7 linked regions of the Homo sapiens genome follow. The protein of the gene in region 1 purifies or fractionates together with the protein of each later gene. This does not show direct contact. Each region holds a gene or a part of one and is shown in the gene's direction. Other genes may lie near its edges.

Evidence for each region.
Region 2: the proteins of LARP4B (region 1) and LIN28B purify together in Homo sapiens (co-immunoprecipitation; one large-scale study listed by IntAct). This does not show direct contact.
Region 3: the proteins of LARP4B (region 1) and ELAVL2 purify together in Homo sapiens (affinity purification with mass spectrometry; one large-scale study listed by BioGRID and IntAct). This does not show direct contact.
Region 4: the proteins of LARP4B (region 1) and YTHDC1 purify together in Homo sapiens (affinity purification with mass spectrometry; one large-scale study listed by BioGRID and IntAct). This does not show direct contact.
Region 5: the proteins of LARP4B (region 1) and TRO purify together in Homo sapiens (affinity purification with mass spectrometry; one large-scale study listed by BioGRID and IntAct). This does not show direct contact.
Region 6: the proteins of LARP4B (region 1) and SCAF1 purify together in Homo sapiens (affinity purification with mass spectrometry; one large-scale study listed by BioGRID and IntAct). This does not show direct contact.
Region 7: the proteins of LARP4B (region 1) and GLYR1 purify together in Homo sapiens (affinity purification with mass spectrometry; one large-scale study listed by BioGRID and IntAct). This does not show direct contact.

Annotation. Positions count from the first base shown.
Region 1 is NC_000010.11:826,700-831,016, reverse strand, and holds part of LARP4B (la-related protein 4B), read left to right. Parts: intron 1-39; coding exon 40-150; intron 151-1,282; coding exon 1,283-1,336; intron 1,337-1,422; coding exon 1,423-1,632; intron 1,633-4,317. UniProt on the Homo sapiens protein: Stimulates mRNA translation.
Region 2 is NC_000006.12:105,081,283-105,084,462, forward strand, and holds the end of LIN28B (protein lin-28 homolog B), read left to right. Parts: 3' UTR 1-2,050; downstream 2,051-3,180. UniProt on the Homo sapiens protein: Suppressor of microRNA (miRNA) biogenesis, including that of let-7 and possibly of miR107, miR-143 and miR-200c.
Region 3 is NC_000009.12:23,763,415-23,767,731, reverse strand, and holds part of ELAVL2 (ELAV-like protein 2), read left to right. Parts: intron 1-2,632; coding exon of another isoform or gene 2,633-2,723; intron 2,724-4,317.
Region 4 is NC_000004.12:68,343,060-68,347,376, reverse strand, and holds part of YTHDC1 (YTH domain-containing protein 1), read left to right. Parts: intron 1-4,317. UniProt on the Homo sapiens protein: Regulator of alternative splicing that specifically recognizes and binds N6-methyladenosine (m6A)-containing RNAs.
Region 5 is NC_000023.11:54,927,245-54,931,561, forward strand, and holds the end of TRO (trophinin), read left to right. Parts: intron 1-60; exon of another isoform or gene 61-191; intron 192-422; coding exon 423-537; intron 538-1,358; coding exon 1,359-3,776; 3' UTR 3,777-3,787; intron 3,788-3,959; coding exon of another isoform or gene 3,960-4,094; 3' UTR 4,095-4,187; downstream 4,188-4,317. UniProt on the Homo sapiens protein: Could be involved with bystin and tastin in a cell adhesion molecule complex that mediates an initial attachment of the blastocyst to uterine epithelial cells at the time of the embryo implantation. Directly responsible for homophilic cell adhesion.
Region 6 is NC_000019.10:49,648,457-49,652,773, forward strand, and holds part of SCAF1 (splicing factor, arginine/serine-rich 19), read left to right. Parts: intron 1-2,411; coding exon 2,412-4,317.
Region 7 is NC_000016.10:4,812,437-4,816,753, reverse strand, and holds part of GLYR1 (cytokine-like nuclear factor N-PAC), read left to right. Parts: intron 1-2,106; coding exon 2,107-2,217; intron 2,218-2,798; exon of another isoform or gene 2,799-2,915; coding exon 2,916-3,017; intron 3,018-4,317. UniProt on the Homo sapiens protein: Cytokine-like nuclear factor with chromatin gene reader activity involved in chromatin modification and regulation of gene expression. Acts as a nucleosome-destabilizing factor that is recruited to genes during transcriptional activation.

The DNA of each region.
Region 1 (4,317 bases):
TTGTTGAGAATTAATTTCTAACATCTCTATTTCCTGTAGGAAGTAGAAGCACTATTTAAAGGAGATAATTTACCAAAATTTATAAACTGTGAATTTGCATATAATGATAATTGGTTTATTACATTTGAAACAGAAGCTGATGCACAACAGGTAAGTTCTTTCCACCATCACCCTATGAATTGCATAGTTTACCAGTTTTTACTATTAGTGCATGTTGGGACTAAACTTGGGCATTGAGATTACTTGTGATGGTAAGTTTGAATATAATCTGCAGAGGAAATCAAGTTGTAGAAACTTAAATATTTGAGTGTATTTGTATGGACAATTTTTATAGCAATATAAAAAGCATGTGATTTTACTTTCTAAGGACAACAAGCTAAGCAACCTAGGAAAATCAGTTTTGTTCTTCTATCTGGGCAGAGAAGTTTTACTATTTGCAAAGTGTTTGGGGGGAAATTTGAACCTAATCTTCATCTCCCAGCAGACTTCATTGTATTTTGGAAGATGCTTTTAATGGTATTGAGAAGTAAGCTCTGTAAGGAGGCGTGAGGAGTTAGTAGTTTTCCTGCTTTTAAGGGAAGCATCTTATTTGTGAGGAAACTAACGCACATATTATAAAGTGTTAAATGGTATAAACAGTATGTGGGGTTCAGAAAAGAAAACACAGAAACCTGAAAGATGGGTTTTAATTGGATGGAGGGGGAAAAGGGGAACGGAAGATAGAGTAACCATTTTTGTGGAGTGGAGTGTGAGCTCTGCCAGCCCGTGTGGCGAATGTGGTCGGATGATATTGAATCAGGTGCAGGGCCTTCACAGTTTTATAGGGGTTTAATGTAGAATTAACATGGAGAAGAACAAGGAGATATATCAAGAATGACTTTTGGATGTTATGATCCTAATCCTTTTCCTTCCTGTCTGGTATTTCCTGAACTGCATTCTCCTAATCTGAAATTGGGATGAATACTAGGAACTCAGTATTCATCATTTTCCACCAGGTCAAGGTTCTTAGCCAGTGGTCTTTGGGAGACTTCTATGGCATCTGTTAATACTTACAAAATTGTGTACAAATCTTGTTTGTGAGAATTTGGGGTACACGTTCCATAGCTCTTATGAGGTTATTTTAAGGGATCTGTGACCCAGGGAGTGTCAAGAATCATTATTCTAGGTTCTGTTCACCATAATTTAATTATATATTTCCCTATTTGAGCTATTGAGTGAACTATTGGTGCCTCTTATTCATAAGGTTAATCGAATGGAATTTTGTACTTAATTTTGCCCTTAGGCTTACAAATACCTTCGAGAAGAAGTCAAAACTTTTCAAGGAAAACCAATTAAGGTAAGCAAGACCATTGGTTATACTTTGTTTATTTGCAAATTGATGTTCTTAAGTATTCTAATAGAAACTTACATATTTTCAAACAGGCACGGATAAAAGCAAAGGCAATAGCTATAAACACATTTTTGCCAAAGAATGGATTTAGACCCCTGGACGTGAGCCTGTATGCCCAGCAGCGCTACGCGACGTCGTTCTACTTCCCTCCCATGTACAGCCCCCAGCAGCAGTTCCCCCTGTACAGCCTGATCACTCCCCAGACGTGGTCAGCAACGCACAGCTATCTTGACCCACCCTTGGTACGTCATTTCTTTACTAGGAATTTATGTTGTAGACACTATGCTAGATAATTTGAAGGATTAAAATCCTCATCTAATAGGAAGCCAGATATGTGTGCAGTCTGACATACTAAAACAGACCTTCAAGTTATGTGGGGGATTTTAAATGTAGCTGAGAACAGAGCTTATGCATAAAGAACTTTGGATTGCTGTGAGCACAATCCTTGCACAGCCCGTCTCCCCTCTTGTCATGCAGCTCTTAGCAAGACGCAGAGGGCGATAAGTGCTGTAGTGTACCTGGCGTCCCCTACACAGAGTACAATGCAAGGGGGATTAACTGAGGAGGAAGAGGTGTTTAATAGGCTTCTGACAGCAAGGCCAAGGAGAAGGCCTGCTGTTTTACCAGCCTTATTTTACTCACTTCTCACCAGCATTAGAGTTGGTCGACAGGATTAATTTTTATGGATTTTGGCCTTTGTTAAGGCCTATGGTTGGAATTCATAAGTCTGTACTGGATCTAGACATTGTCTCTTTGTGTGCTGCTATAGATGCTTGAAAGATCAAGTGCATTCTGGGTGGGAATTAGCATGAGTTTGGTGGCATTGGATGCACGAGAGTCAGCAATACACGGATGAGCATGTCCTTGAAGCTGAAGTCTAGTTGAGAAGTGAAGATGGGTTCATGGCCTAGAGGTTTGCATGAGGTAGCAATGCAGGTTAGTTGGAATTGGAGAGATTGAAGGGTAGCATACATAGAAGGTTATGGTCAGAAAGCAGAAATTGAGTTAGTAACTTTGAGAAGAGTTCATGTCCAGGGTTTCGCTGTGGACTAAGGGAAAGACTGAGTGGTCCTCAGGGTCGGATGGCTGGGAGCCAGGCACCCTGATGTGCAGGGATGTCACCGCTGACAGGCAGAAAAGGAGGGTAGGTGCAGAGCAGAGAGAACTTGAGAAAACAAGTGCCTGTATACACGGAAAGTAAAGATACGGGTCCATGAAACAACTCAGGCTGGAAAAGTCAAACATGCCAAGGAGACACGTGTACAGAATGCCAGAACACTGACAGGTCTTATCAGGGATTGTGTTGTCATCTAGGTTGAGCTTTTCAGGTTAAGTATGAGTTTTTCAGAAGGAATCAAAGAGAAGTTTCATGAACAGAAGATGGTCGTAGATTCATGGGTGTCTGAGCTGAAGCGTACACCGGGTGGCAGGGAGTTGGGGAACGAGCTGGCAGTTTCCAGGCCTAACTGCGCAGGTGCTTAGCTGTCCTGAGGCATGTGGGCTTTGGCCTAGTGCTTGTGGGAAGGTGTCTGAGGTTTCTAAGCGGAGAAATGAAACCATACTCCATTTAGAAAATAGCTCCTAAGGCCGTGTGAAGGGCAGGTGGGGACAGGGAGAGATTTTCAGAGGACCCCAATTCCCCCTGAGTCTGGAACCACCGCAGTGTAAGAACCTTTGGTAAAGTTACTTCTGTCTCTTTTGAGTAAGTCCTGATGGTAAGAAAAGTTTCTGGCTTTTTGAAGTAGCACATTCTATAAAAGTGTACCCATAGCTGAATACTTCGTTTTCCCAAAAGCATATCATGAGAGAACCTCAGAGAGACTTGAGTCCGTAGGCTCTGGGTGTTGAAGAATCATCGCTGCACGTGGCTTGCCATGCTAGTCCTTTCAGTTCTTCCTGCAGCAGTTGCTTCTTCCGTTTCTTTAATCATGGTTGACCCTCTCGGGGATCCTTGGGGTTCTGGGTCAGCTTATGGCCTTGACTTATGTTGTATGTTCAGGTTGCGGTGTGTGCCAGACAGCTGGTCCTGCTCTGAGTCTGTGATACTGGGGCTCTCCATCGCAGCCTTTTACTTGTGCTAAAACATGTGCGTCCTTTGTTCTGCAGCTGAAGAGATTGTGCCTATTAATCCCCAACAAGTAATAATAGGAACGCATTAATAATCAACTTTATTTTTTATATATGACCAATTTTATTTTTTATCTTGAGCAAAATTACTGGAATATCAGGGCTCTGTCTGTAAAATGACTTGCTGGAAATGATTAGTCCTCATTGCTCTGCCCATGATTTACAGCCTCAGATCCAGGTCTGCATTCATGGCTCTTCAAGTGTGATGTATTTTCTTTTTCTTTGAGACAGAGTCTCTCTCTGTCGCCCAGGCTGGAGTGCAGTGGCCGGATCTTGGCTCACTGCAAGCTCCGCCTCCCGGGTTCACGCCATTCTCCTGCCTCAGCCTCTTGAGTAGCTGGGACTACAGGCGCCCGCCACTACGCCCGGATAATTTTTTTGTATTTTTAGTAGAGACGGGGTTTCACCATGTTAGCCAGGATGGTCTTGATCTCCTGACCTTTTGATCCGCCCCCCCTTGGCCTCCCAAAGTGCTGGGGTTATAGGCATGAGCCACTGCGCCCGGCCATGTGTGATGTATTTTAAAAAGTCCGATTCTTACAGAGTGAAGAGTTTCTCAAGTAGCAAATTGAAGATTCTAACTTCCCTTTTGTATGATTTTATTTTAGTCCTAAGCTATAATATTCTTTTTCTGTTATATCTTCCAGTTAGCTCTAATTAAGGAGAATTACTTGCTTTTTTCCTTTCCTTTCTCTCTTCCTCCAAACAAGGAGGGCTCTATGCGTATCTCTGTCACTTTAGTGACATTGAGGGTGTGGACTGGAAGGCCCTCAGGAACTAAGTGCCCTGTGTCAGGAGCA
Region 2 (3,180 bases), on another chromosome or scaffold:
TTTTGAATATCAGATATCAGTTATCCTATTTTTATTTCATGTGAAAACTCCTCTAAAGCAGATTCCCTCAACTCTGTGCATATGTGAATATCACTGATGTGAACACATTGTTCATTTACATAGGTAAAATATTACTCTGTTTACAGCAAAAGGCTACCTCATAGTTGATACATAGCACACCTGTATGTATGCTGTTCCAGCCTTACAGGTGGCTGATAATTCTCTGGTACAGAACCTTTTTATCTGTATTATAAATAGCAATTCACAACTGCATGTTTCTGACAAACACTTGTGAATAATGAAGCATCTCGTTTTAGTTAGCAAAGTCTCCAAACATTTCCTTAAAATAATCATGTATTTAGTTTAAAGAATTATGGGCACTGTTCAACTTAAGCAAAACAGAACACGGAAGCAGTCTTAGAAGCACCACTTTGCCCAGAGGTGGAGGTTGGAAGGGGTAGCAGGGAGAGGGGTTGGTGTATGCAGGTATTCATGCTAGGCAAAGAGTTTAAAAGACGCCAATGTCCTTCATTTACTGTCTGTGCTGCCCTGAAGCCAAGCGTATTGCAGCATTATAGCCCCAGGCACATAACTAACTAGCACTGGCTTGCCAAGGAATGAACATGCAATGCCATTACTAGCTATTGAGGGAAAAGGGTCTGTGTGAAGCATCACTTTGCAGGGATTACTAATGGTGGGGCAGCAGGTCTGTGAATTAAGTTATCTCTTGACCTCACCCTCATGTCAACACAAATGTAATTCCTAAACAAGATGCATTGCCAGTCTCTTAGCCCTGTAAGCTGATCTTTTGCTACATGGCAGACTATAATGAAAACATTTTTATACTTGGGTTTCTAGTCTTCACTAGAAGGCCTTGGATGTATTTTTGCAGTTGAAAGATTTAGAAAGATTTTTACCTGCTTATAACTTGGAAGTTTAGAGTGCAATGTAAGAAAAAAGATCAAGAAATGTCATGTTATTAGCATCAGTCCACCTCCAATATTGCCGATACTTTTTTTATTCTGGCTCAGTTTTATTTTGCACCAGTGCGGCCCCAAGTTACTGCTGGTTGTATTTAGTTTGTGAATAGGAGCCCATAAGTGTTAATAGACTTTGTAACATTCACTATAAGATGAATTATACAGGACATGGGAAATCTCATTAAGTCTTAAAGTTAATTTAAATTAATTTATCTGTTTTCTCTAAGAAATGTTTATCATAAAATATATATGTGTATTTCCCCTTTGGTTATAAAATTTGGGAAAGTATGTACAAGTGCAGCTGCACTGACTTTAATTTTCTAGATGTCTTAATGAGATTTATTTGTTTTAGAGAAGAACATCTTGTTAAAAGCATCAAACTCTGTCTTACATAGCTGTCAACAGCCTCTTTAAGATGTGGTGGTTGTATGATCTGTGTCTTAATTGTTCAGTTAGAGTGAGAAGTTGACCTATGATTCATTTTTAAATTTTATATTTGGAACAAAGCTGCAAGTTATGGTAAAGTACTGTACTGTGAGAAGTATTATGATATTTAATGCATCTGTGGCTTAACACTTGTGAGAGTTACCAGCTTGAAAATGATGGTGTTGACTACCTCTTGAATCACATCTATCAACCACTGGCACCTACCACCAAGCTGGCTTCAATTAGTATGTGTTGCTTTTTGGTATTAACAACTAACCGTACTAGAGACCAAAGTGAACCCTGATTTTTATATGTCTTTAATAATGGTGTTTTATCTAGTGTTTTTAAATTATCCTGTGTAGTATTTAGATTACCTCATTGTCCATTTTGACTCATGTTGTTTACAAGTGAAAATAAAAACACTTGAACTGTATGTTTTTAAAAGACAAAAAAGGGGTAGATGTTTGGAATGCGTTTCACTCGCATGCAGTCATCTGGAGGGACTGAAGCACTGTTTGCCTTTCTGTACACTCTGGGTTTTATATTCTCATTTCATGCCTAATGTCTTATTCTGTCAATTATGGATATGTTGAGGTTTAAAAAAATTACTTGATTAAAAATAAAACATATAACGTTGGCATTTATGATGGGTTTTGGAGATTTTTTATGATGTGTGTTCTTACTAAGTTAAGTGAAAGGATAAAAGGCCATTTAGGCAGTGTTTTACATCAGTTGGAGCATAAGTTAAGTGGTATTAACATATCCTCAGTGGTGAGTATTAACATGGAACTTACTCCAACAATACAGATGCTGAATAAATGTAGTCTAAGTGAAGGAAGAAGGAAAGGTGGGAGCTGCCATCACTCAGAATTGTCCAGCAGGGATTGTGCAAGCTTGTGAATAAAGACACATACTTCATGTAGTCAGAAGAGTGGTCTGAAGCAAAATATTCAAAGCCTATTGAAGAAATCATTTTAGAATTTTTCTACAAGTTTTTTCTAATAAAGAATTTGAAAAGGGCAAATTTTATCAGTACCAAATATCTAAAATACGAATGTAGATTTATCAAACCATGAATGCAGTATTGATGTACTGTAACAAACGATTTGGTAAAACTATTGAGTTCTTTAAATTGGCCAGTTCCACAATCAAACTTATTTTCCTCTCTTCACCTGGATGATTTATTTTTTTGATGATCTGTTATGACTTTTATTTTATTTTAAATTCTGGTAAAATCACATAACATAAAATTTACTATCTTAACCATTTTTTTTTAAAGATGAGGTCTCATTCTGTTGCCCAGGCTGGAGTGCAGTGGTGCAATCGTAGCTTACTGTGGGCTCAAATTCCTGGACTTGAGCGATCCTCCCACCTCAGCCACTTGAGTAGCTGGACTACAGATGTGCACCATGCCCAGCTAATTTTTTTTTTTTTTTTTTGTAGAGATGGAGTCCTGCTTTGCTGCCCAGGCTGGTCTTGAACTCCTGGCTTCAAGCAGTCCTCCCTCCTTAGCCTCCCAAAGGGCTGGCATTACAAGTGTAAGCCACCATGTCTAGCCTTAACCATTTTTGATTATTAAGTATATTCACATTCTTGTACAACCATGTGTGATTCACTTTTCTTTGAAGGGCTTTTTGTACTTTACAGAATATGGAAAACCTTTAAACCTTAAAAGAAAAATACACATAATCCCATCATCTGAAAGTAACCAATAACAGCTTTTATTAATTTATATTTAGTATATGGAATTTTTTTTTCTTTTTGTGAGACAGGG
Region 3 (4,317 bases), on another chromosome or scaffold:
GTGTGATCTCTGCTGACTGCAACCTCCCCCTCCTGGGTTCAAGCCATTCTCCTGCCTCAGCGTCCTGAGTAGCTGGGACTACAGACCACGCCCAGCTAATATTTTGTATTTTTAGTAGAGGTGGGGTTTCACCATGTTGCCCAGGCTGGTCTTGAACTTCTGACCTCAAGTGGTCCACCTACCTCAGCCTCCCAAAGTGCTGGGATTACAGACGTGAGCCGCCGAGTCTGGCCTATTTAAGATGCTTTTGATTAACTACCTGGTTTAGTGGCTGTCTGCAAGAGGTTTGAAAATAGTGAAGAAGCTGATTACCTTAGTTTGCAGAATTTTTTAATTGTAAGATTAGAAAATATAGACTGCTTTTCTCTCATGTGACCAGGAAACTATTGGATCAGTTTGACTTCTCAAATTCTTAACTCTTCCCAGATATGAGATATAAAGCATTTATTTTCTAAATTCCACTATTGTGAAAACAGTAGATGTTAAAATTCATAAAGGATTATTTAAATAAAAAGTTTAGAAGTCTTTATGGCTTTTTGGAAGTACCTGTGTGTATAAAAGTAGAGACAATCTTCTATTTCCCAATAAAACCTACGCTTTCACCATAGTAACAGCCATTTTACCTTGGAGCCCAGTGAAAGTTTAGAATATTCTAGATTCATCTATGCTAAAGTGCCTTTTCGTAAATTATTACTTGGATAATAACAGGAGGAAAAGCAGTCTGAATTGGCACAAGTGATGTCTAAATTAAGAGGAGAATATATATTGAAACATTATTTTTTTAAGCCTTAAAATTAATGGCTCTGTTTCACTGGAATATGGCCTTTTTTTTCTTTCCGAAGAGTTTCAGAGCCAGTGGAATCTATAAATAGTACACAGCCCAGTTGTCTGTGGTAGATTGAGTAGAGCAGAATTGCCTGTCCTTAAGTGAAGGGGAAGTAGCTTTACATTTTTAGTAACTGAATTGTTGGCCAGCATAAAGGTAAGGGCCATGTGAGCAACTTATTTATAACTTCCCATAAAGGTATGTGTCTGCCTCAAGCGGAGAAGACTGTCTGGGGTGCTTGAAATGTAAAAGTGCAGTAGAATCATTTTCCATACACAGCCTTCCTATCTAGTTGGTGCAATAAAGTGATTGTTCACCTCCCTGGGGCTTTCAGAAAGAGGGGTGTCAATAGATTAGCTCATTAGTGTCCACCTCCTATGAAATAGAAGGGACTGAGGCAGTTAAATTAAAATCTGTTTTATGTAGTGAGCAATGTTTAGATTGAACTCCTGAAGGTATTCAGGACATACATTTATGCCTGCTTTACCCTGCTGGGTGTGGTCCTGCTCATGTAGTCTTAACTACAGTTGGGTTCTTATGAAAAATCTTTCATGGGTGTAAAGCACTTTTTCACAGGTTCAGTTAAACTATAAGTAGTTTTTTGAAAAATAACATAGGGTCAGACCAAAATCTCTTGTTACAGTGGGAGAACGGAAGAAGAGTAAAATATTTTCATGGCTTCCTGTAAAAAAGTATGTTAATCCTTTTTGATAGATGCCAGAAAGTGGAATCCATCGTTACTGGCGGCATTGCTAATATCAAGAGTAAATCACAGCCAGGATTGCCTCTCAGGATAAAATTTTTATAATTATCAATAAGTAAAAGACATTTTTGGACCTCTTCTGTTATTCACTGTCTATTTTTAGAAACTAAGTTTTCTGATTATATTGACCATTTGAAGCATCTGCATATATGGCAAAAAAAGTAAACTTTGGCTTTTGTGCCAATATCATGGCTCTGTTTGGTATTTGGGCAAGTTTCAATAAGTGGTAAATGGCCCATTAACTATATTGGAGGCCTCATAGCAGCACTAATTTCAAATCGTGCTGGGTTTACAATTTACATATTAAAAAATGTTCACTTGATTTCGTTCAGGGACAAAGCTGACATCCTATGCGAGCATTACTCCAAACAATCCTATTTATCGGTCCAATTATTTCAATTGAAAGATGCTGGTTTACTGCCTCTTAGTATATGTGAGCAATTCTCATTGAAACTGTTAGAAACCGTTTGACTGTAGTGGCAAAATAACCTCACAGGGTTTCGATTCACTTTTAATTTTAAGTCCCAGGATTAAGGATCATTTATAGTATAATGTAACAGTGTGGGCAAATATAGCTTCTCTTAATGTCTTTCTGATATTTTGGGGAAAGAGTGCTTTTATGCAAACCAATCACTTAGGAATTGCATGATGACTTTTTCCCACTATAAAATTTCATTCACATTTCCTCCCTTCTCCCACATCCTTAAGAGATAAGACAGCCTGCAGTATTTTGCTTTATTTTACTTTATTTTTTAAATTTTTGAGGTGTGGTTTACATTAGTTCTTCAGAATAGATGCCAAGATAACTAGTTAATACTGTTTTAAAATCAGGCTCTTAATTAAAAATGCTTATATTTGTGCAAGAAAACTACATGTTGAAATGAATTTGGAAAGATTAGATTGGAATTGCCTCAATTTCAATTAAGCCACACTGCATGGACGTGCTGGGAATATCAATACAATCACTGTAAATTTTGTACAAACTGATTTGTTGCATTATCTTGCTCATCTAACATACGGTACTTTTTGTGTCCATATTGCAGACGGCAACTCCAAACTAACATGGCAGTCAGACTGTGTGATGTGGCTTCTCTGCTTAGAAGTGGTTCGTGGGCAGCAGAGCCTTGGACCGGGGTCTGTGGGATTTTTCTTAAATTCTGTAGGCTACTTTTTTTTAGCATGTTGGAGGAGTGCTGAGGCCATACCAAACACTTGAATCTTTCATTTGGCATACTAATTATTCTTACATTTAACCTATTGTGGTATGGCCATCATTAGGACTTAAAGCACATTGCAATTTTAACTGTAGTGGTGTATGTAGCATCAGAACCATGCTCTCGTATGTAATTTTTTTACAATCTAAATTAGGATTTAGCGCAGACTCAAAAGAGTGACAAGCTTTTTTAAAAAAACAAAAAAAGTTTTGGTATGGTCTGAATACTAAGTTACCGTAATTCTATACATTCTGTTTACTATGTATTTTTTTGGTTACTAAATTTTGAAGTTATTTACAATTCTTTATGCTCCAAAAAAAAAGTTGAAATTGTAAATCTGGCTGAAAATTATTTGCCCAGTAACTGTTGAAAGAGTTTGCATTCTGTGAACAGTTGTGTTGAGCCTATCAATGGAATATGCATTATTTGTAAAATATAGCACATTAGTATCATTTTATTCTGAGCAGATGGTCCTATAGCAGAGAGATGCTGTAATTTTCAGCGCACACAGCCTACTGCAGCTGTTCACTTGAATGTTGGCTTAGGAGCTCATTCTTGCCACCTGAACATGGAAATAAATGTGCAATTAAGTGAGGAGTGTTTGTTGTCCTTTCTAAATCTTGCTGATTTCAGTCAATGAACACTTTGTATTTCAAATGCTATCCCAATGAGCTTTAGTCCGAATCTCCCATTCGGGTCTCTTGTAGTTTCTACACCCATCCAAACTTTTCAGTAGTGATTTAAGTGTCTTTGGCCACTTTAATCTTGTAGCTCATTGTTTCCATAACTGCTGGGCAAGGGTTAACCCCAGAAGAATTTTTGCTGTGAAAAGAGTGACCCACAGCTAATATTCTACAAACCAGAACAGTTATGTTTAATTAGGAAATCTGAAACTTCCCTTTTCAAATTCAAATAGATTTGCTAATTATAATAAAACCCATATCTTGAATTATTTAAGATTTTTAAATACAGATTTCCAAAGGTTTATTTTCCTTCATCCCTTTAAGTATTCCCTGAGAAAACTTAGCTTACGTAGAGAAACAGCTTGCAGCTTGTAGAATAAATTCCCACTTCTTTGACAAGGAAATGAAGTCACAGAGGGGTTACAGGTTGTTGGATATTTCAAAAGCTATTCTGGATTTTGCCTCATGTTTTTTTATCATGACAGCACTGATTCTTGTTCAGTCTGACCAGTCTCAATATGTCCAACACTGCCTTCTTTTGTAAACATCTCCTGGCAGTAGAGATTTCTTCCTATATGTTTATCTGCTAATGTGCCCTTTTATTTTTCTTAGGCAATATGTGTTTTAAAAGACAGTTTTTTCTCTTTCCTTGTAACCCTCTTTCCCTTTACTTTGCTTTTTTTCTTTGCCTCAAGTTCTTTGCCTTTTCTATGTTAAAGCTTCCCTAAAACTAGCATCCCGTCAATTCAGAATTGTCAGTTTTGAGAAGCAGTTCTTTGTGGAGGTGAGAGATGTATGCAATATGAAGGATAATCCTTTCAGTGATGCGTT
Region 4 (4,317 bases), on another chromosome or scaffold:
GTTGCAATGTTGGTGTTAACTAATATTAAATGCCATTTTTCTATATAAGGAGGAAATATGCATCTTTTCTATTATTGCAAACACCTTGTATAAATTGTATTAATCTTTTACAAAGTTCTCTACAAAGAACAGTTACAAAAGTTTAATCTATCCAAAATGTGTATGAGTAATGTGTAATGAGTTACTGTGTTAAAAATAACGTGTTTTCTAGATTACCAGACTAGAAGCTCCCTGAGTGCCCGGAGTACATCTGTCTTGTTCACTGGGTTCTTTGTATACAGTAATTGTGTTTCAGTACCTTGAGTATTTACCAGGTTGGACTTCATTGACTGACTGGTTAAATGACATGTGCAGTATGATAACGAAAGCTAAGAGTTTCTCAGTTTAAGTTATACAACAGTTCTCCCCTGACCCCCAACCTCTACCAGCCTTATTTTCCTGGTAAATACGTTCTAAGATCCACAGTGGATACCTGAAACAATGGATATTACTATATCCTATCTATACTATGTTTTTTTCTATATGTATATACCTATGATGAAGTTTAATTTATAAGTCAGGGACTGTAAGAGATCAACCACAACAATAATAAAGTAGAACAGTCATTACAGTATGCCATCATCACTACTCTTGTGCTTTGGGGCTATTATTAAGTAAAATAAGAGTTACTTTGAACACTGACACTGCCATATGTGGACAGTTGATCTACTACCCGAGACAGTTACTAAATGACTAATGGCAGGTAACATATGCAATGCAAATATTTGTTGACCAAAGGGATGATTCATTTTCCAGGCAGGACAGAGTGGGACAGTGCGTAATTTCATCACACTACTTAGCGCACAATTTAAAACTTATGAATTATTTCTGGAATTCTCCATTTTTATATCTTTGGACAGTGATTGACTCAGTTGACTGGGGGTAACAAACCCTCAAAAGCAAAACCTTGGATAAGTGAGGGACTACTGTATATATACACACAGTTGTTTTCAGACGGCTTCTGTCGCCTAGGCTGGAGTGCAGTGGAGCAGTCACGGCTCACTGCATCCCCAACCTCCCAAGGGCTCCCTAGTAGCTGGGACTACAGGTGTGTGCCACCATGCCCAGCTAATTTTTTATTTTTAGTAGAGACGAGGTCTTCCTATGTTGCCCAGGATTGTCTTGAACTCCCGGGCTTAAGCAGTCTGCCTGCCTTAGCCTCCCAAAGTGCTGGAATTACAGGTGTGAGCCACCGTGCCCAGCCGTTATACAGACGGTTACATGCAGGTGTGTGTGTATATATATATATATATATATATGTACACACACAGTCATGTGCACACACATGCACACAGTCACGTGCACACAAACACAGTCGTGTCATTTAACAATGAAGATGGGCATTGTTAGGCGGTTTTGTTGTGTTATCATAGTGTGTTTACACAAACTTAGGTGGCATAACCTACTACATATCTAGGCTGTATGGTATAGTCTATTGTCCCTAGGCAACAGATCTGTTGGGCGTGCTACTGTAGGCAGTAGTAACACAATGGGAAATATTTGTGTATCTGAACATCAAAATGATGACTGTGCCACAACATTTGTATATACTATGTGTATATACTATGGCCCTCACTATAGTAATTTCTTAGGATAAAATTGCCTGTCTTGGTTCACTTTAGTTTGGGCTCTGTAAGGCATAGAGTACATATTGATACTCCAATATATTTATTTTACCTATAGTATAAGTAAGGTAGAAAATTTAAAATGATATCTTTGCACTTAAATTGTATGTTTTTATAAGAGCGGTTTTGGATGGGAAATCCAAGTTTTTAAACTTCATTTGGAGGAATGACGATTTTCAATGACAAAAACTGAGAAACTGGTCTAAATGTACAACGTACATTACAAGACAATAGAAGGGGGAGGTTCTAGTAATCTTGCTCCATTGCCAAGTCCCACTAAAATTATATTAAATGAATTAAAATATAATTTATTTTGGTACCTTGTGTTAGAAAACAAAATGTGTAGTATATTTAGTATTTAACTTTCCTTAAATACTAAATCTTAGTCTGATGCTGGAACCTCACATGTTAATAAATAGCACTGTCTTCTGACCCAGAAGCTTCTGCAGTAAAAAATGACTGTCCCAGATAAAGGTTAATTTTCTACCCTGATATCCCTAGAGTTAAAGTTTGTGACCTTCCTGGCCAAGAATGTAAAGATTATGGTAAATTTTAAGTTCCCATGTTTACCTAAAACAAAAATCCCCCAGCCAAGCAACAAACAGCTAGCTTTGTTATTTCTAACATCTTGTCAGTTTTTGAACAGGCCTTAAAAATAATGATTTTTTTTGTTGTTGGCGGGGAGACAGGGTCTTACTCTGTTGCCCAGGCTGAAGTGCAGTAGTGCGATCAGGGCTCACTGCAGCCGCGACCTCCCAGACTCTGGTGATTCTCCCACTTCAGCTTCCTAAGTAGCTGAGACTACAGGTGCGGTGCACACCACTAATTTTTGTGTTTTTTGTAGAGATGGGGTTTCATCATGTTGCCCAAGCAGATTTCAAGCTCCTGAGCTCAAGCTATATGCCTGCTTTGGCCTCCCAAAATGCTGGGATTACAAGTGTGAACCACCATGCCCGACCTGTTACTCTTTTTATATCCTTGTTTACTTCCTGTATCCTGGGAATCTGTACCTTTACCTCAAAACTCATTTTGCTATTAGTTTGTGTATAATATTAATACAAAACATTCACACGTGATTATACTTTCACGGAGGAATCTAGCAGCCAACTGTGGAATCTATCAGCCAGCTGTTTCATTTTTAATTGAGGCAGCACTGAAGAGTCATGCAATTCCAAATAAAAATCTGGGTTTCAGAGTCCTCTTGAAAATGTGGAAGATCTGACAACACAGTGCTTGCAACTGTCAAGGAAGTTAATCTTCTGGAGTTGAGTAGGATTGTCCCCTTTAGCTTTCCTCCTCTTTCCCAAAGTATTATATACGGTATACTAAAACTAGTTTGATGTTCCTGTGCCTTAGTGTATTAAACTGAGCCTTGGGTTTTTTCAAGTTTAAGATCAGTGTTATGCAGGGGTTGCAGATGTGTGTGCATGCCAGAATCTGGCAGATAAAGATAAAGTACTTGCTTAATACGTTAGGTATCATGAGTTTGTTTTTTTTTTTTTTTAAGAGCCAGCATGCTCTTTGTTCAGGTAGTAATACTGATTCACCAGATACAAACTCATTCACCAGATACAAACCCAGATTGTCTCATGCAAAACTTTGACATATGTTACCTTCTCTGTGTCTTAACAGAAGACTAGACTCTTCCAGCTGGTTGTTTTCAGGTGAGAATCTGGGCCCCTAATAATCAAATAGTATTTTTTTAAGTGGGTTTTCATATTAAATCCTTAGAATTTTTAAAAACAGCATTCAAGAGCTGAGTTTATCCTCTAGACTGCTAGTGTAAAACTTTTAGATAGATTTGAATTTTAGCTCTAAATGTAAATACTGTTTAATGTAGGATTGTTTCATTAAGCTTATTTCTTGAACTGGCACATTATAAAAAAATCCATCTTTTTGTGACATCTTAATTTTGGAACAAAATTTTATAGATTTTAACCTGAGGTCAGGAGTTCAAGACCAGCATGGCCAACATGGCAAAACCACTTCTCTACTAAAAATATAAAAATTTAGCTCGGCGTGGTGGCAGGTGCCTGTAATCCCAGCTACTTGGGAGGCTGAGGCAGGGAGAATTGCTTGAACCTCAGAGGCGGAGGTTGCAGTGAGTTGAGATCATGTCACTGCACTCCAGCCTCGGCAACAGTGAGACTGTCTCAAAAAAAAAAAAAATTTTTTTTTTTTTTTTTTTAAAGATTTTAAGTGATTTTTTAAGGCCGGGCACGGTGGCTCATGCCTATAATCCCAAGACTTTGGGAGGCCAAGGCAGGTGGATCACCTGAGGTCAGGAGTTCGAGAACAGCCTGGACAACATGGTGAAACCCTGTCTCTACTAAAAATAACAAAAATTAGCTGGGCATGGTGTGGCGGGCCTCTGTAATCCTAGCTACTCGGGAGGCTGAGGCAGGAGAATCACTTGAACCTGGGAAGTGGAGGTTGCAGTGATCCCAGATTGCGCCACTGCACTCCAGCCTGGGTGACAGAGAGAGACTCTGTCTCCAAAAAAACAAATTAAAAAAAAAGTGATTTTTAATGTCTATAGTTCTCTATATAGACATCTAAAAAAGGCTTTCAATGTGAAGTGCTTTATGTCATAGAAATTAGGATTTTTGTAGTGCATGAATTGTATGCTTATAGGCCTTTTCTTAACCTGGCA
Region 5 (4,317 bases), on another chromosome or scaffold:
AAATTCCCATGGGCAGACCTTTCCAGGACTGGGCCAGACTCAACACAAGGCCCTTGCAGTGGGGTGCGCTCAGAGCAGAGGGCCTTAAGAATGGCTCCTCTGTTTACAACACACCCAACAGGAATCTGGGCTTACTCCTCACAGGTGGCATGATACTTTGGCCTTCCTGTGACATCATGCCCTATACATGTCTCCCCTGGAGAAGCCCAAGGGACTGCTTTGCACAGGGCCAGTGGGAAATGGCTCAGTATTGGAGGCCAAGACCATAAACTGTGTTTGGTAGTGAGTCTGGGGCTGGAGGGTCTTAGAAATCCCTCTCCAGGGGCTGTTTGTATTTGTTTGGAGGAGGTTGCCACCTGGTGTCTAGTGCTTAGACAGCAGGGTTGCTTGGTTAGAAACAAGTTTCATTTCCTTTTTCCAAGGTACCTGGAGTACAAGAGGGTCCCTAACAGCAGACCACCTGAATATGAGTTCTTCTGGGGCTTGCGCTCCTACCACGAGACTAGCAAGATGAAAGTCCTCAAGTTTGCATGCAGGGTAAGAGGAGAGCTGCCCGAGCTTGGCATATTAAGGCAATGGGATACCCTTGGCTGGGGCAGGCAATGCACAGGGATGGGCAGGTACAGAGCAGCCTGCAGCTCATATATAAACATGTGGAGCCTCCTTTATGTCCCAGGGTGCTGCTAGATATATAGTTTACATCATCTCATTCATTCTTCATACTTTGTATTAATCAGCATGGGCTGCCATAACAAAATACCATAGACTGGGTGGATTAAAAAACAAATTTATTTTCTCATAGTTCTTGAGGGCGAGAATCCTAGGTCAGGGTCCACGAGGGTCAGTTCCTGTTGAAGGCTCTCTTCCTGGCTTGCAGATGGCTGCCTTCTTGCTGTGTCCTCACATGGCTTTGTGTGTGAGAGAGAAGAGAGCAAGCTTTCTGGTGTCTCTTCTTATAAGGACACTAATCCTGTTGATCAGGACCCCACCCTTATGGCCTCATTTAACCTTAATTATCTCCATAAAGGCCCTATCTCCAAGTACAATCACACTGGGTGTTAGGGATTCAACATACGAATTTGGGGGCGGGCACAACCCTTCAGTTCATAACATATTTACGCTCTATCATTTCCTGTAATTATAAAGACACTTAGGCTAAGTGAGGTTAAGTAACTTGTCCAAGGTCATATAGCACGTAAGTCAGCAGAGCTGAAACTGGAGTTCAGAACTGACCCATGATAGAGCCCCAATAACTGAGAAGTTTAAAAAAGTATTGCTACTAGTTTAATACAAAGCCCGTAGGTTAATACATGATTACTAGGGTTGTTTTCTTATTATGATTATCATCCCCATTTCAGGTGCAGAAGAAAGACCCCAAGGACTGGGCTGTGCAGTACCGCGAGGCAGTGGAGATGGAAGTCCAAGCTGCAGCTGTGGCTGTGGCTGAGGCTGAAGCCAGGGCTGAGGCAAGAGCCCAAATGGGGATTGGAGAGGAAGCTGTGGCTGGGCCCTGGAATTGGGATGACATGGATATCGACTGCCTAACAAGGGAAGAGTTAGGCGATGATGCTCAGGCCTGGAGCAGATTTTCATTTGAAATTGAGGCCAGAGCCCAAGAAAATGCAGATGCCAGCACCAACGTCAACTTCAGCAGAGGAGCTAGTACCAGGGCTGGCTTCAGCGATGGTGCTAGTATTAGCTTCAATGGTGCACCCAGCTCCAGTGGTGGCTTCAGTGGTGGACCTGGCATTACCTTTGGTGTTGCACCCAGCACCAGTGCCAGCTTCAGCAATACAGCCAGCATTAGCTTTGGTGGTACACTGAGCACTAGCTCCAGCTTCAGCAGCGCAGCCAGCATTAGCTTTGGTTGTGCACACAGCACCAGCACTAGTTTCAGCAGTGAAGCCAGCATTAGCTTTGGTGGCATGCCTTGTACCAGTGCCAGCTTTAGTGGTGGAGTCAGCTCTAGTTTTAGTGGCCCACTCAGCACCAGTGCCACTTTCAGTGGTGGAGCCAGCTCTGGCTTTGGAGGCACACTCAGCACCACGGCTGGCTTTAGTGGTGTACTCAGCACTAGCACCAGCTTTGGCAGTGCACCCACAACGAGCACAGTCTTCAGTAGTGCGCTTAGCACCAGCACTGGCTTTGGAGGCATACTCAGCACCAGTGTCTGTTTTGGTGGCTCTCCCAGCTCCAGTGGTAGCTTTGGTGGTACACTCAGTACCAGTATCTGCTTCGGTGGCTCTCCCTGCACCAGCACTGGCTTTGGAGGCACACTTAGCACCAGTGTCTCCTTTGGTGGCTCTTCCAGCACCAGTGCCAATTTTGGTGGTACACTAAGTACCAGCATCTGCTTTGATGGCTCTCCCAGCACTGGTGCTGGCTTTGGTGGTGCTCTCAACACCAGTGCCAGCTTTGGCAGTGTGCTCAACACCAGTACTGGTTTTGGTGGTGCTATGAGCACCAGTGCTGACTTTGGCGGTACACTAAGCACCAGTGTCTGCTTTGGTGGCTCTCCTGGCACCAGTGTCAGCTTTGGCAGTGCACTCAACACCAATGCTGGTTATGGTGGTGCTGTCAGCACCAACACTGACTTTGGTGGTACACTAAGCACCAGCGTCTGTTTTGGTGGCTCTCCCAGCACCAGTGCTGGCTTTGGTGGTGCACTCAACACCAATGCCAGCTTTGGCTGTGCCGTCAGCACCAGTGCCAGCTTCAGTGGTGCTGTCAGCACCAGTGCTTGCTTCAGTGGTGCACCAATCACCAACCCTGGCTTTGGCGGTGCATTTAGCACCAGTGCTGGCTTCGGTGGGGCACTTAGTACCGCTGCTGACTTCGGTGGTACTCCCAGCAACAGCATTGGCTTTGGTGCTGCTCCCAGCACCAGTGTCAGCTTTGGTGGTGCTCATGGCACCAGCCTCTGTTTTGGTGGAGCTCCCAGCACCAGCCTCTGCTTTGGCAGTGCATCTAATACTAACCTATGCTTTGGTGGCCCTCCTAGCACCAGTGCCTGCTTTAGTGGTGCTACCAGCCCTAGTTTTTGTGATGGACCCAGCACCAGTACCGGTTTCAGCTTTGGCAATGGGTTAAGCACCAATGCTGGATTTGGTGGTGGACTGAACACCAGTGCTGGCTTTGGTGGTGGCCTAGGCACCAGTGCTGGCTTCAGTGGTGGCCTAAGCACAAGTTCTGGCTTTGATGGTGGGCTAGGTACCAGCGCTGGCTTCGGTGGAGGACCAGGCACCAGCACTGGTTTTGGTGGTGGACTGGGCACCAGTGCTGGCTTCAGTGGCGGACTGGGCACCAGTGCTGGCTTTGGTGGTGGACTGGTCACTAGTGATGGCTTTGGTGGTGGACTGGGCACCAATGCTAGTTTCGGCAGCACACTTGGCACCAGTGCTGGCTTTAGTGGTGGCCTCAGCACCAGCGATGGCTTTGGCAGTAGGCCTAATGCCAGCTTCGACAGAGGACTGAGTACCATCATTGGCTTTGGCAGTGGTTCCAACACCAGCACTGGCTTTACTGGCGAACCCAGCACCAGCACGGGCTTCAGTAGTGGACCCAGTTCTATTGTTGGCTTCAGCGGTGGACCAAGCACTGGTGTTGGCTTCTGCAGTGGACCAAGCACCAGTGGCTTCAGCGGTGGACCGAGCACAGGAGCTGGCTTCGGCGGTGGACCAAACACTGGTGCTGGCTTTGGTGGTGGACCGAGCACCAGTGCTGGCTTTGGCAGTGGAGCCGCCAGTCTTGGTGCCTGTGGCTTCTCGTATGGCTAGTGAGGTTTCAGGTAACTGCAATATTTCCATAGCCAGGACCCACAGGGATGGGTACAAGAGCTGGGAGATGTTGTAAGAAACACTAAGGCAGGACAGCAGGGTGGAAAGGTGAGGGCAATTAAGGAATTATGAGAAGACAGTGTATTTGGTGCTAAAATGTGTTCCTATTTGTTTTGTTTTCAGATTTATTCCCCATGTTTACAGATACCGCTAATAAATTGCAGTAGTCCTTCCCATGGAGCCAAAGTACATCCTTGGAATCTTTGTCCACACAGCAGTCAAGGCAGTTATGGCCAATCAGCTGAGGGTGTCATGTGATGGAAAAATCTGTTTGCTGTTCCTGCTTTATTGTTTGCTTTCTGTGTGCTGTCATATTTTGGTATCAGAGTTACATTAAATTTGCAAAATGAATTGGAGTTTTTTCTGTCTTTTAATGTGCTTAGGTAGTTGTGGAGTGGCATCTTGGGTTCGTAGAAGAGCTGGAGATCAGCATAGCTCTTTGGAGAATGTGGGTCTCCAGCTTTTGGCTCAAAGGCAAATA
Region 6 (4,317 bases), on another chromosome or scaffold:
ATATGTTGCGCAGGCTGGTCTTAAACTCCAGAGCTCAAGCAATCCTCCTGCCTTGGCCTCTCAAACTGCTGAGATCACAGGCATGAGCCACCATGCCTGCCACACCCCCCCCCCTTTTTTTTTAACAGCTGGAAATGATTTATCCATTAAGTACAGTGATATGGTGCCTAGGACTTATGACATTCTTAGGGGCCCACAAAAGTGTTTCAATTTCTTTAAAATCAGAAGCTGTAGGGCTGGGCACGGTGGCTCACGCCTGTAATCCCAGCACTTTGGGAGGCCAATGTGAGCGGATCATGAGGTCAAGAGATTGAGACCATCCTGGCCAACATGGTGAAACCCTGTCTCCATTAAAAATACAAAAATTAGCTGGGCATGGTGGCACACGCCTCTAGTCCCAGCTACTCGGGAGGCTGAGGCAGGAGAATTGCTTGAACCAGGAGATGGAGGTTGCAGTGAGCTGAGATCGTGCCACTGCACTCCAGCCTGGGTAACAGAGTGAGACTCCCTCTCAAAAAAAAAAAAAAAAAAAATCAGAAGCTGCAGAGGATAAGTAAACAAATGGGTCAGGCAACGTTCCTCTAAAACTTGATTTAGGAAAACAGGTGGTATGCTGGATTTGACCCCTGGGCCTTAAGAGTGATAAGGGTGTATCCGGAAGCTAATAGTAGTTGTTTTCAGGGGGACTCTGAGGTTATGTTTTCTTTGCTTATTCCAGGTAGCTTTAAAAAGAAAAGAAAGTTCACCCATAATCCTGTCCCATACAGAAATTTATATAAAGCTGTGGATCTCGCGTGTTTGCAGAGCGCTCTAGTCTGTGGAGAGTATTTTGTGCTTAAGGTGCTGGGAATAGCAATGAGGCTAGGAAAAGCTGAGGCTCAGACTGTCCTCACCCAGCAGCAGGTGCAGCCTGGCTCTTTCTGCGCACTCATCTATTCCTCCGCTTATCCTGGGAAGTAAATGCTGTCATCATCACCCCTGTTTCATCTTCCCCTAAGCCCTTGGCAGCTGAGGGACCGTACACTCCACTCATTGATATTTTTTTTGTTTGTTTTTGAGATGAAGTTTTGGTCTTGTTGCCCAGGTTGGAGTGCAGTGGTACGATCTCGGCTCACTGCAACCTCTGCCTCCTGGTTTCGAGTGATTCTTCTGCCTCAGCCTCCCGAGTAGTTGGGATTACAGGCATGTGCCACCACACCCGGCTAATTTGGTATTTTTAGTAGAGATGGGCTTTCTCCATGTTGGTCAGGCTGGTCTCGAACTCCCAACCTCAGGTGATCCATCCACCTCGGCCTCCCAAAGTTCTGGGATTACAGGCATGAGCCACCCCACCCGGCCATAAAGGGTGTTGGATGAATGAACATACCCCCATTTTATAGATGAGGAAACTGAAGTAAGACACATTGATCCACTTGCCTGTGGTCATGTGGCTGGTGAGGGCCAGCCCCTGGATCAAGGGGTGGCTCTGGTGCTGCCCTCTTGACCCCTCTCCTTCCCTGGCACTGTCCTCACACCACTCTGCTGGCATCCTTGCCTGTGGTGTGGCCTCTGTCAGCCATCTCCATCGTGTGACTGTGGCATCATGACTGTAGTACTTAGCACAGTGCAGCGGGCTCTTTGGGGGCGAATGAGGTGACATACGAAGCACCATGCCTGGTTTGGAGGAAGAGGCAAACCTTTGTCATTGCCACTGTCACTGGTCAGTGGTGTCTTTGAGTCCTGAGCAGATGTAATTCCTTGGGTGGGGACTCAGCACAGAGTGAAGAGCTTGGGGTGAAGACCAGCCTTCCTGGGCTCCCCAGCTCTGCCATTTCCTGGCTCTGCACTGGAATCTCACCCTCTACCAAACGGGAGAAACTCCCACGAGAGGCAGCTGGCGCAGCAGGCCAGAGCTTGTTTTTGTCTTGGAGGGGGACTTAGGTTTGAATCCCAGCTCTCCCCCTGCAGCCTGTTTTCCTGTTTCTTCTCCCCCCAGGATGGAGTGTGGTGTTGTGGTCATAGCTCACTGCAGCCTCCACCTCCTCCTGGGATGGGTCGCCGGCACTGGTCAAGATAGTTCCTAGTTTCAAGGCCAGGGTACATTGCCCAGGGTCAGGCCAGTGCTGTCTCAGGATATGGGAGTGCAGGTTCGGGGCCGCACTGACTGAGTTTACACCCTGACTGCTGCCTTCTCTCTGTGTGCCCTTGGGGAGGATACTGCAGCCCTCTGCCTCAGTTTCCTCCTGTGACCTTTGGGTTAAGAACCATGGTGTGCAGTTGTTGGGAGCATCCTACGGCTGGCTCCTGTGAAGCACTTGGGGCTTCCTGGGCAGGACCTGGTGGCCCAGGGAGTGTCCACGGCTGGGCCAGCAAGCAGGCACCAGGAGGGAGGCAAAGGCCCTGACCGCCTCTCTCTCCCTGTTCCTTTGCAGTTTCTCCACAGTCGAACTCCTCTAGGCCCACCTGTGCCCGTCACCTCACCTTGGGCACGGGAGACGGGGGCCCTGCCCCACCCCCTGCCCCCTCCTCTGCATCCTCCTCCCCTTCCCCTTCTCCCTCATCTTCCTCCCCTTCCCCTCCCCCACCCCCACCGCCCCCTGCACCCCCAGCCCCACCTGCCCCCCGATTCGATATCTATGACCCCTTCCACCCCACCGACGAGGCCTACTCTCCACCGCCTGCTCCGGAGCAAAAGTACGACCCTTTTGAGCCCACCGGCTCCAACCCCAGCTCATCAGCGGGGACCCCCTCACCTGAGGAGGAAGAGGAGGAGGAAGAGGAAGAAGAAGAGGAAGAGGAAGACGAGGAGGAGGAGGAAGGCCTGTCCCAGAGCATCAGCCGCATCTCGGAGACCCTGGCGGGCATCTACGATGACAACAGCCTGAGCCAGGACTTCCCAGGTGACGAGAGCCCCCGCCCGGACGCGCAGCCCACACAGCCGACTCCCGCCCCTGGAACGCCGCCCCAGGTGGACTCCACCCGGGCTGATGGAGCCATGCGCCGGCGGGTCTTCGTGGTGGGGACCGAGGCAGAGGCTTGTCGGGAAGGCAAGGTCTCGGTGGAGGTGGTGACCGCTGGTGGAGCCGCCCTCCCGCCGCCCCTGCTGCCGCCCGGCGACTCGGAGATCGAGGAAGGGGAGATCGTCCAGCCGGAGGAGGAGCCCAGGCTGGCGCTGTCCCTCTTCCGCCCCGGCGGCCGGGCCGCCCGGCCTACACCGGCCGCCTCGGCCACCCCCACGGCCCAGCCCCTTCCTCAGCCTCCCGCTCCGCGGGCCCCCGAGGGGGACGACTTCTTGTCCCTGCATGCGGAGTCGGACGGCGAGGGCGCCCTGCAGGTGGACCTAGGGGAGCCGGCTCCCGCGCCGCCCGCCGCCGACTCGCGCTGGGGCGGCCTGGACCTGCGCCGCAAGATCCTGACCCAACGGCGGGAGCGCTACCGCCAGCGCTCGCCCTCCCCGGCGCCCGCGCCCGCCCCGGCCGCCGCTGCTGGTCCGCCCACGCGCAAGAAGTCCAGGCGGGAACGCAAGCGCAGCGGCGAGGCCAAGGAGGCCGCCTCGTCCTCGTCGGGCACCCAGCCAGCGCCGCCCGCCCCGGCCTCGCCCTGGGACTCCAAGAAGCACCGCTCGCGGGACCGCAAGCCCGGCTCCCACGCCTCGTCGTCCGCCCGCCGCCGCTCCCGCTCCCGCTCCCGCTCCCGCTCCACCCGCCGCCGCTCGCGCAGCACCGACCGCCGCCGCGGGGGCAGCCGCAGGTCGCGGTCCCGGGAGAAGCGGCGACGGCGGCGGCGCTCCGCCTCCCCGCCCCCGGCCACTTCCTCATCGTCGTCCTCGAGGCGCGAGCGGCACCGCGGGAAACACCGGGACGGTGGCGGCAGCAAGAAGAAGAAGAAGCGGTCGCGGTCCCGGGGTGAGAAGCGGTCTGGGGATGGCAGCGAGAAGGCCCCGGCGCCCGCCCCGCCGCCCTCTGGCTCCACCTCGTGTGGTGACCGCGACAGCCGCCGCCGGGGGGCCGTGCCACCCTCCATCCAGGACCTCACGGACCACGACCTCTTCGCCATCAAGCGGACCATCACGGTGGGCCGGCTTGACAAGTCCGACCCCCGAGGACCCTCTCCTGCTCCGGCCTCCTCACCTAAGCGGGAGGTCCTGTACGACTCCGAGGGACTGAGCGGCGAGGAGCGGGGCGGCAAGAGCAGCCAGAAGGATCGGCGCCGCTCGGGGGCCGCCTCCTCCTCCTCCTCTTCCCGGGAGAAGGGGTCTCGTCGGAAGGCGCTGGACGGGGGTGACCGGGATCGGGACAGGGACAGAGATAGGGACAGGGACAGGTCATCCAAGAAGGC
Region 7 (4,317 bases), on another chromosome or scaffold:
TTGGCCTCCCAAAATACTGGGATTACGGGTGTGAGCCACTGTGCCTGGCCCACAAGTAATTTTTTAAAAGAAAACCAGAAGAAAATAAATACTAACATAGATCTTTGTAAATCTAGAACTAATAAAAATCACACAAGAAGATCAGTTGATTTTTTTTGATAATACTCCCCAACAACAAAAAAATAAAATTCAAAGGAATACCAACTAGAAGTACTTGTAGCAAATACGTAAGAAGGGTAATATGTTGCTTTTATTAAACATAGTTTGATAATTAAGACAAAAAAATTAGTAGGGTGCTAATTAATAATTTTAGATCTAAGAATAGGCTCACACCTATAATCCTAGCACCTTGGGAGGCTGAGGGAAGAGGATTGCTTGAGTCCAGGAATTTGAGACCAGCCTGGACAACATGAGACTCCATCTCTACAAAAAATAAAATATTAGCTGAGTGAGGTGGCACCTGCCTACTATAGTCCCAGCTACTTGGGAGGCTGAGGCCAGAAGATCTCTTGGGCCCAGGAGGTAGAGGCTGCAGTGAGCTGTGATCATACCACTGCATTCCCACCTAGGCAGCAGCAAGACCCTGTCTCAGAAAAGAAAAAGGACAAAAAAATGGCTCACAAAAGAGGAAACAAAGGCATAAAAAATATTCGGTAATCAGGAGTAATTAAAATATATCAAACAAGGCCGGGTGCGGTGGCTCATGCCTATAATCCCAGCACTTTGGAAGGCAGAGACTGGGGGATAACGAGGTCAGGAGATCGAGACCTCGGTGAAACCCCGTCTCTACTAAAAATACGAAAAATTAGCCGGGCACAGTGGCGGGCGCCTGTAGTCCCAGCTACTCGGGAGGCTGAGGCAGGAGAATGGCGTGAACCTGGGAGGCAGAGCTTGCAGTGAGCTGAGATCGTGCCACTGCACTCCATCCTGGGCGACAGCGAGACTCTGTCTCAAAAAAAAAAAATGAAACAGTTGCCTTTTTTGACTGGTTAAATGATCAGGTAGGAAGAATTTTACATGTATTTATGGGCACTTATTTGTAGTTTTTAAATTACATACTTGGTACTGGCATAATAGGAGAGCTTGCTGGTGATCTTTATGAAGTGACATAGTCTCATTGGGAAGTCATCTGTCTACATTTGTTGAGAGCCTTAAAACTTTTAGAACCTGTTTTATTCTATTTGTGGAGACCTGAATTTAAAACATAGAGAAGTTTTGTACGTAAAGATGTTTGGTGATGTGATTTTACAATTGAAAGTGGGCTAAGTGTCAAACTACAGGTCAGCCATTAGGTAAATCACAGTATATCTCTCAGTGAAGTTTTCCATAGTCAACCACTATAAACCATAATTATGCCAGAATTATGAAAGACAACAATATAGATAAATGTGAATCATAAACAACATTAAAAGTCTGATAGAAAATAGTAGGCCCATCCAGCCTGGGCAACATGGTGAAACCCTGTCTCTACAGAAAAAAAAAAAAATCACACATGGGGCATGCACCTATAGTCCCAGCTATTCAGGAGGCTGAGGCAGGAGGATCACTTGAGTCCAGGAGGTTGAGGCTGCAGTGAGCCATGATTGCACCACTGTGCTCCAGCCTGGGTGACAGAGCAAAACCTTGTCTCAAAAAAAAAAAGCCAAAATGGTAGTGTTTTTAGGCACTTCCAGAAGTCTTATTAACCTGACAACAGTGTTGAGAAACAACCCAAAAACGAATGGCCACCAGGTGGAAGGCTTCCAGCGACATCCCCACATTCCCAGCAGAGTGTTGATAGCTCAGGGCCACAGCCAGGACAGCACAGCGGGGGCTGGGGAGAGGTGCTACTGTTCATACCCCATTCTTGAAACAGCATACCTTCAGCAGACACTTGTGAAGCAGTTCATCATCCTAGGCACTCGTCATGCAAAAACTGAAGATGGCCAGTAAAAGGCCCCGTGCACTTCCCCAAAAGTTGGGCTCCTATCTCCATGACCCAGGCTCCCGGCCTCAGCCTCCTGCCTTGGTAGGCCGCCAGGAGGCCTGGTCAGCAATTCTCTGGCCTGGCTGGCATGTTTGTTGTGCACTGCCTGCAGCTCACGTTAGGATCTGTGACTTTTGCAGTGTGATTTGTTCATCCAGGAGGGGGCCCGTCTGGGAAGAACCCCCGCTGAAGTCGTCTCAACCTGCGACATCACTTTCGCCTGCGTGTCGGATCCCAAGGCGGCCAAGGACGTAAGGACCCCCTCCCTCCCCTCAGCAACTCCGGGTCACAGCCAGGATTGCTGGCTGGCCTCTTCCCCTCCTCCCCTGCACACCAAGTGAGTGTCCACATGTGGGGGGCTGAATTTCCCATCAGGGGCCATCTCCCATTGTGAAGGGTGTTTGCATTAATTGAATACAGACTTCCTTTAATTCAGATCAAAGAATGAACACTACTAGGGCCCTTGAAGTCTGTGCTGAAATGTGTCTTGAACAGGCTTCATGTGTTCTTGTTGAACTAGAAGCTTTGGAACTGAATGTGCCTTTGGTCCAGGTGCCAAGCTTCTATGTTTAGCTGTCACTGTATTTGTATATTTTAGAAGTTCAAGTGTGGTAGTCATCTTATTAAACTGGTGACTAGCCTAATCCAAGTAAATCCAAAGAAGTCCCCAAAGTAAATGCTGAGGTTTATTCTTTTAAATGGGGTTTGTTTTTTTTTTTTTTTAAATAAAAAGAAATGCACACACTCACATAGATTCTTTTTAAAGATAAATGGGAGCATGCGGGAAGTACTTTTCTATCCCTTGCTTATTTCATTGTTCTTCCCTTTTCAGCTGATAGAAATCAGGAAATGAGCCAAAACAGCAGCAGGATTCTGATCTGAGGTCTGTAGGGCTCCTGAGCATCTGCCCGGGAGCCTGGGCTATTGCTTCTCCCTTGTGTCCCCACAGCTGGTGCTGGGCCCCAGTGGTGTGCTGCAAGGGATCCGCCCTGGGAAGTGCTACGTGGACATGTCAACAGTGGACGCTGACACCGTCACTGAGCTGGCCCAGGTAGCAGCCTTCCTTGGGCTGGCTCTCCAGCATCTTTTCTATCAGAGCCCAAGACCCAGGCTTACAAGAGTGGGCAGTTAAGTTACTCTAGAGCCAAAGCCAGAGAGGGAAGAGGAGAGGCGAGTAGCCTTGGGACTAGCCTATCCCGTGCTCCACCTTCAAACCGCAGCTAGTCTGAACAGCCATGGGCAGTCGCTGCATGGCTGGGATGGGCATCAAGTCCTGGAGCTGCCAGCCTTATGATGAGAAGCAACCCAGGCCGCCCGCCTGGCATTGGGGTTTGAGCAGCTGTCTGCATTTGACACTGGCAAAGCATCCCTCCTCCCCGAGCATCTGGCCCAAATAAGGGAGTGGGGACTTTGGGACCCACATATGTTCTGAGGGGAGGGCAGCATCCACAGGGGAGGTGTGTGTTCAGCCGAGCCATTGACATGGTCACATCTGGTTCTAGTTGTTGGTCTCTAAGAAATTCCAGTCCGGGCGCGGTGGCTCACGCCTGTAATCCCAGCACTTTGGGAGGCCGAGGTGGGCGGATCACGAGGTCAGGAGATCGAGACCATCCTGGCTAACACGGTGAAACCCCATCTCTACTAAAAATACAAAAAAATTAGCCGGACGCGGTGGCGGGCACCTGTAGTCCCAGCTACTTGGGAGGCTGAGGCAGGAGAGCGGCATGAACCCAGGAGGCGGAGCTTGCAGTGAGCTGTGATCGTGCCACTGCACTCCAGCCTGGGCAACAGAGCAAGACTCCGTCTCAAAAAAAAAAAAAAAAATTAGCCAGGCATGGTGGCGGTTGCCTGTAGTCCCAGCTACTGAGGAGGCTGATGCAGGAGAATGGCATGAACCCGGGAGGCAGAGTTTGCAGTGAGCTGAGATTGCGCCACTGCACTCCAGCCTGGGCAACAGAGCAAGACTCTGTCTCAAAAAAACAAAACAAAAAAATTCCGGCCAGGCGTGGTGGCTCACTCCTGTAATCCAAGCACTTTGGGAGGCCGAGGCGGGCGGATCACAAGGTCAGGAGATCAAGACAATCCTGGCTAATATGGTGAAACCTGTCTCTACTAAAAATACAAAAAATTAGCCAGGCGTGGTGGTGGACGCCTGTAGTCCCAGTTACTCGGGAGGCTGAGGCAGGAGAATGGCATGAACCCGCGAGGCGGAGCTTGCAGTGATCCGAGATCGCTCCACTGCACTCCAGCCTGGGCGACAGCGAGACTCCACCTCAAAAAAAAAAAAAAAATTCCAAGTCAGTTGGGTTCCTGTGTGGAGACCCCAGCGTCTCATCACTGCTGTGATTCGG